2 separate regions of the Homo sapiens genome follow, and region 1 is linked to region 2. The links come from fine-mapping of genetic effects on gene expression. A gene starts in region 2. The other region holds a variant in brackets. All regions are shown on one strand. Distances are from middle to middle.

Region 1 (2,920 bases), 37 kb after region 2:
CCTTAGGAAGATTTAAAGGAATCTTATAGTTAACATGCAGCCTTAGCTGCATGTTTCTTGTGTCTTAATAACTGAACACATTTAGACTTCTTGCATTTCCGAGTACTCTAAGGAAATCATTGAAAAGCATATTCTTCTTCATCTAGGTTTGTCCTACGTCGGGACCCTCCTGGGCTAGCGCGCTTTAAGGTGATGGCCAGAAGGTGGCGCTCTGCATCAGTTCATGGGGGCGGCCTGACTCCGGGGAAGGCAAACACACAAACCAAGGTGCCTGCTTTAAATCCGCAAAGTAAAGGTCCTCTTAACCACTTGTCATAAAACACCCTGAGACACCCGTCTTGGAAAATCGAAGTGTCAAGCTCAGCATCTTTGCCACATTTCAAACTAGGTAATTACCTTCTCTCCCAAAGGGAATCTGCTTTATGTATTTGTGTCCTTTCTAGGTTACAAGTTTCCCAAAGGCAATGATCTTGCCTTCCACTCACTCCATACAATGCTGAAGTGAAATGCATATTGTACAATAACAATTTAATTATTCTACATTCCTCTGAGCTACATGATGACCTGTTACATAATTGCCAGTAATATAGAAATGTGCCTGCCTCATACAAACCCTTGCAATACACAGAAGTTTTTATTTGACCTAAGAGTAAATTGCTTATTTGCTTCTCCTTTAGAAAAGAAAAAGCAGAGCATTTCCCCGCCATCCCAAATTATAAGTCGTAATCAAATAAACAACACTGTATTTCAGTCTGTCATTTTTATTAAGCCTGCAGAGCTGTTTTTTTTTCTACACACGACAAATACTTTGATATAATCTAGGATAATAAAATAGTTGAACAACTTTTTAAGATTTATATTTGTATAGAAACAATCTGTGGAACTCCTCCCCTCAAAATGAAGGTGTCTAAAAACAGTGATTCATCAGCATTGCTTTAAATAATTGTTTGGTTAAAAGTTGTGGTTTCCATTCTCAACCGAAATGCGTCTCCATGCAGTTTTCCTTGGGTCCAAAGCTTAAGGCCTTGGGAAGGGGGCCAAGAAAAAAAGAATGGCCACTCTCCTTTCTGTCCTTCCCTTGTGTGGAGGACAGTGATTGAAACAGGGGAGTTAAAAAGCCAGGAAGAAAAGAAATCAATTGCACATCTCTAGTTCGCAAGCGTCAAAGTCACAACAAGTCTGTACACAACAACTCTCTATCTGTAGATATGAAATTCCATCATGATAGCACAGCGCCTGCTTGCCCCTAAATGTTCCTTTCTTCTGCTAATCATGTCAGTTACTATGGATGGGCTGTGGCCATAAGTTCTCCCTCAAGGGCTGGTCCTTCTGTCACCTTGAAGTGTCAGCCCCTGAATTATGCCACTTGGATGCTATGTCTTGATACCCAATAAAGGTCTACCATCCCCTAAGAAATCCCTTACCCCACCCTCAAACCCCCAAAGTGCCTAAGAGTGAAGACGAAGATGCCATGGAGACGGCGTCTTCAGTGAACACCTCCCCAAAGATGCCCGGGGACTCGGGCCTATATCATCCCATTGATCTTAGTCCACTCGTAGATGTCCTGTTCGCACACTATGTCAGAGTTGATGAGGAGGTATCTGTCACCTACACAGAAATGCTTCTGACAGGCGGCGCA[T/C]TTGAAACATTCCAGGTGATACACTTTGTCTTTCACCCGCATTGTCATCTCATAGGCACGAATCCGCTTGTCACAGGATGCGCAGAGACCGTCTTGCCCAAAAAGCCTGGGGCAAAAGAAAGAAAAGCTAAGAAGACAGTGAAAGGGACAATCCTGGAAGACAGGGCTCGGGGATGAGCCCTAGAAAGGAGGCCGAACTTTCAGGATGTCAGGAAGCCAGGGAAGGTCGGCTCCAGAAGGAGGGCCGGCTAGTGCAGTCTTCACCAGCAGGCAGAGGGAACTCAGATGAAACTGGCATTTGGATCTGGCATAACTCCTCCCTTTTCTGAGCCCTCTCCTTGTCTGCAGCAACCGCTCATCATTCCCCTAGGCTGCCCCCTGGCTCCTCCTCTGTGGGCAAGGCTCTCAGCTGATGTGATCTATCATAAGGAGTTAGGCAAGTATTACCTGTCCCCTCCCAGGGGAACCCTCATTTCAGAAGAGCAGCTGGAGAGAGACCCTAGGGGCCCCTTTGAGAGGGTACTGACCAGGAATGCAATAAAACGGGCATTCTTCTGAGGCTCCCAAACTCTATCATGTCAACAGCCACTGATTCTACCCATGGGGAGAGCTGGCCTTGAATACCTCCATAAGCTGCAAAGCACATCTCCCCCTGATTATTCGCTGGGGCCCCAGCTGCTGGGAGACAGGGAGTTCCACAGAAAACACGCGGTGCAGCTAATCGTGCCTCTGAGATATGGAGGACCAACAGCATCTCTCCACCATGAAGGGAGGATCTTAATTCATGGCCCTCGCTGCCCACTGGCATGAATCAAAAGGGAAACTTCTTTTCTGACATTTAAATCAAGACTCTCCCAAGCCTCAGTTGATCAGTCACTTATTTCAGGCAGTATTCAGTGTCAAGGTGGGAGACAGAACATGGCAGGGCTCAGTGCAGTGGTTCTCAAAGTGTTGGTCCTGGGACCAGCGACATCAGCACTGCCTGGGAACCTGACAGAAATACAAATTCTCAGGCTGGGCGCAGTGGCTCACACCTGTAATCCCAACACTTTGGGAGGCTGAGGCAGGCAAATCACTTGAGCTCACAAGTTCGAGACCACCCTGGGCAACATGGTGAAACTGTGTCTTTACAAAAAATACAAAAATTAGCCGGGTGCGGTGGTGCATGCCTCTAGTCTCAGCTATTAATACTTGGGAGGCTGAGGTGGGAGGATGGCTTTAGCCCGGGAGGTGGAGGTTGCAGTGAGCCGAGATCATGCCACTGCACTCCAGCCTGGGCCA
Region 2 (2,920 bases):
TGCACCACCACGCCTGGCTAATTTTGTATTTTTAGTAGAGATGGATTTTTCTCCATGTTGGTCAGGCTGGTCTTGAACTCCCGACCTCAGGTAATCCACCCACCTCAGCTTCCCAAAGTGCTGGGATTACAGGCTTGAGCCACCATGCCCGGCCCCTCATTCTTGACCAGAGGTCTCAAGATGAGTGACCTACATCTGCCACATCGTTTCTTCTTTGCCCACTTGATCTGCACAGCTGGCTACAGCCCCACACTGCCAGGGCCAGCCTGTTCCTTCCCCTCATGCTGCTGGGTGGCTCCTAAAGGGCAGTGTGGGTGCATGGGTTGTAGGACTGTACAGTCGTAGATTCAAATTCCAGCTGTGCATGTGTCTGGCTAAGCCACCTGGTGCTGGTCACTTTCTGTTTATGAGCCTCGGTTTCCTCATCCGTAAACTTGGGCAGATAGTAGTTCCTCGCACAGAGTTGCATAGAATTAATGAAATAATGCATTCATGTGCACACTATGTGTTCCCCATGGTCATCCTGACCCCGTTCTACTTCTTAAAGCCCTCTCCGTACTAGAACTTCAGTGACGCTGCACTAGCTCAGTGTGGCTTACAGCCTCTCTTTTGTCCCTCTTAACGCACTGAGGCCGGCTAACATTGATGGAACCCTTCCTATGAACCAAGCAACATCCCGCCATTTTACTTTATCAATTTATGTAGCTTTTGCTATAGATACTATAATAGTACCCACTTAACAGATGGAGGTATTAAGGCACAGGGAAGGTGATAATGACCCAGGAACACACAAGCAACAAGGGACAGAACAAATCCCGGCAGTTTGGCTCAAGCCCCCATGCTGTCTCCAGTTCTCTGAGTGATCCAGGGTCTTTGGCTTCTCTTTCCTCCTCAAGCAACTCTCTCTTTCCCTGATCATTTATTCACACAACTTGGTGCGTTTATTTCATAAATCTCAGTGCCCGACTCACTTCGCCCTTCTCAGTTTGCCCTAAACCCCCCAGACTGGCTGGCCACCTCCTCCTGACGCCCTGCCTTCATCTCAGGTCCAGAGAACCCAAACTTACGTTAAGCTCCTTCCTGTCTTTGAGGAATGTGATTCTGCAGCTCTATCAGCAAATTTCACTCAGCCCTACGAGGCAGTTTCTTGTGAGCTTGCCTGTGTCCTGTATTAGACAAGCTACCAGAAGACAAGACCCTGTCCTTGTGTGCCAATCTCTGCCTCCGGCATTGTAAAGGCAGATGAAACTCTCTCTCAGATCATATTCCCTTCCCATTTCTGTTTCTGCTCAGGGAGCTATTATGTGTACTTTCTTCCTGCCTCTGAAATTCTTCCCTTGCCTCATGCCACCTGACATCCGTCTCTCACATCCCATCCCCTCTGGTCAGGGCTGACTTCCAACCTTCTCAGATTCCTCACAGTTCCCCCATTCCAACTGCCAACTGTCACCCTGGCCCCAGCCTGTCACTGCTTGACCATCATGATGGCCACCCTACCTTCCCCTTATTTTTATTTTTTAATTTTTGTGGGTACATTATAGGTGTCCCCCCATATATGTATTTACAAGGTCAGGAGATGTTTTGATACAGGCATGCAGTGAGTTACGATCACATCATGGAGAATGGGGTATCCATCCCCACAAGCACTTATCCTTTGTGTTCCAAACAGTCTATTTATGCTCTTTCAGTTATTTTTAAATGTACAATTAAATTATTATTGACTCTAGTCACCCTGTTGTGCTATCAAATACTAGGTCTTATTCATTCTTTTAAACTATTTTATGTACCCATTAACCATCCCTACCTACCCTTCACACCCTCAGTATCCTTCCTAGCCTCTGGTAATTATCCTTCTACTTTCTATCTCCATGAATTCAATTTTTTTTTTATTTTTAGATCTCACAAATAAGTGAGAACATGTGATGTTTGTTTTTCTGTGCCTTGTTTATTTCATTTAACATAATGATCTCCAGTTCCATCCATGTTGTTGCAAATGACTGGATCTCATTCTTTTTTATGGCTGAATAGTACTCAATTGTGTATATGTACCACATTTTCTTTATCCGTTCATCTGTTGATGGACACTTAGGTTGCTTCCAAATCTTGGCTACTGTGAACAGTGCAACAACAAACATGACAGTGCAGATATCTCTTTAATATACTGATTTCCTTTCTTTGGGGTATATACCTAGCAGTGGGATTGATGAATCATATGGTAGCTCTATTTTTAGTTTTTTGAGGAAGCTTCAAACTGTTCTCCATAGTGATTGTACTAATGTACATTCCCACCAACAGTATACGGGGGTTCCCTTTTCTCCACATCCTCACCAGCATTTGTTATTGTCTGTCTTTTGTATAAAAGCCATTTTAACTGGGGTGAGATAACATCTCATTGTAGTCTTGATTTGCATTTCTCTGATGATTAATGATGTTGAGCACGTTTTCATATGCCTGTTTGCCATTTGTATGTCTTTTTTCGAGAAATGTCTATTCACATCTTTTGCCCATTTTTGATCAGATTATTAGATTTTTTTTTCTCCAGAGTTGTTTGAGCTTCTTATATATTCTGGTTATTAATCCCTTGTCAGATGGGTAGTTTGCAAATATTTTCTCCCATTCTGTGGGTTATCTCTTCACTTTGTTGATTGTTTCATTTGCTGTGCAGAAGGTTTTTAACTTGACGTGATCCCATTTGTCCATTTTTGCTTTGGTTGTCTGTGCTTGTGGAGTATTGCTCCAGAAATTTTTGCCCAGACCAATGTCCTGGAGATTTTCCCCAATGTTTTCTTATAGTAGTTTCATAGTTTCAGGTCTTAGATTTAAGTCTTTAATCCATTTTGATTTGATTTTTGTATATGGAAGGAGAAATGGGTCTAGTTTCAGCCTTCTGCCTATGGATATCCAGCTTTCCCAGCATCAT

Alleles and levels. Alleles are on the strand shown, and positions count from the first base shown. SD is a standard deviation of normalised expression in the study named.
As copies of C replace T in region 1, the expression in lung of the gene that starts at base 1,448 in region 2 goes down (moderate effect, 0.42 SD a copy in GTEx).

The links.
Region 1: its variant is fine-mapped to the expression of LINC02721 in lung (GTEx, PIP 0.96).

What each region holds. Positions count from the first base shown.
Region 1 is chr11:33,857,831-33,860,750 of GRCh38, forward strand. It overlaps LMO2 (LIM domain only 2), which reads right to left. Exons shown (of 6, transcript NM_005574.4): 6 at 746-1,745. The coding sequence ends at 1,526. Among named protein-coding and RNA genes, the nearest start is that of LMO2, 33 kb to the right of the region's middle. RefSeq lists a silencer at 149-322. The variant T/C (reference allele first, on the strand shown) is at 1,640.
Region 2 is chr11:33,820,927-33,823,846 of GRCh38, forward strand. It overlaps LINC02721 (long intergenic non-protein coding RNA 2721), which reads right to left and starts at 1,448. Exons shown (of 3, transcript NR_183773.1): 1 at 1,068-1,448.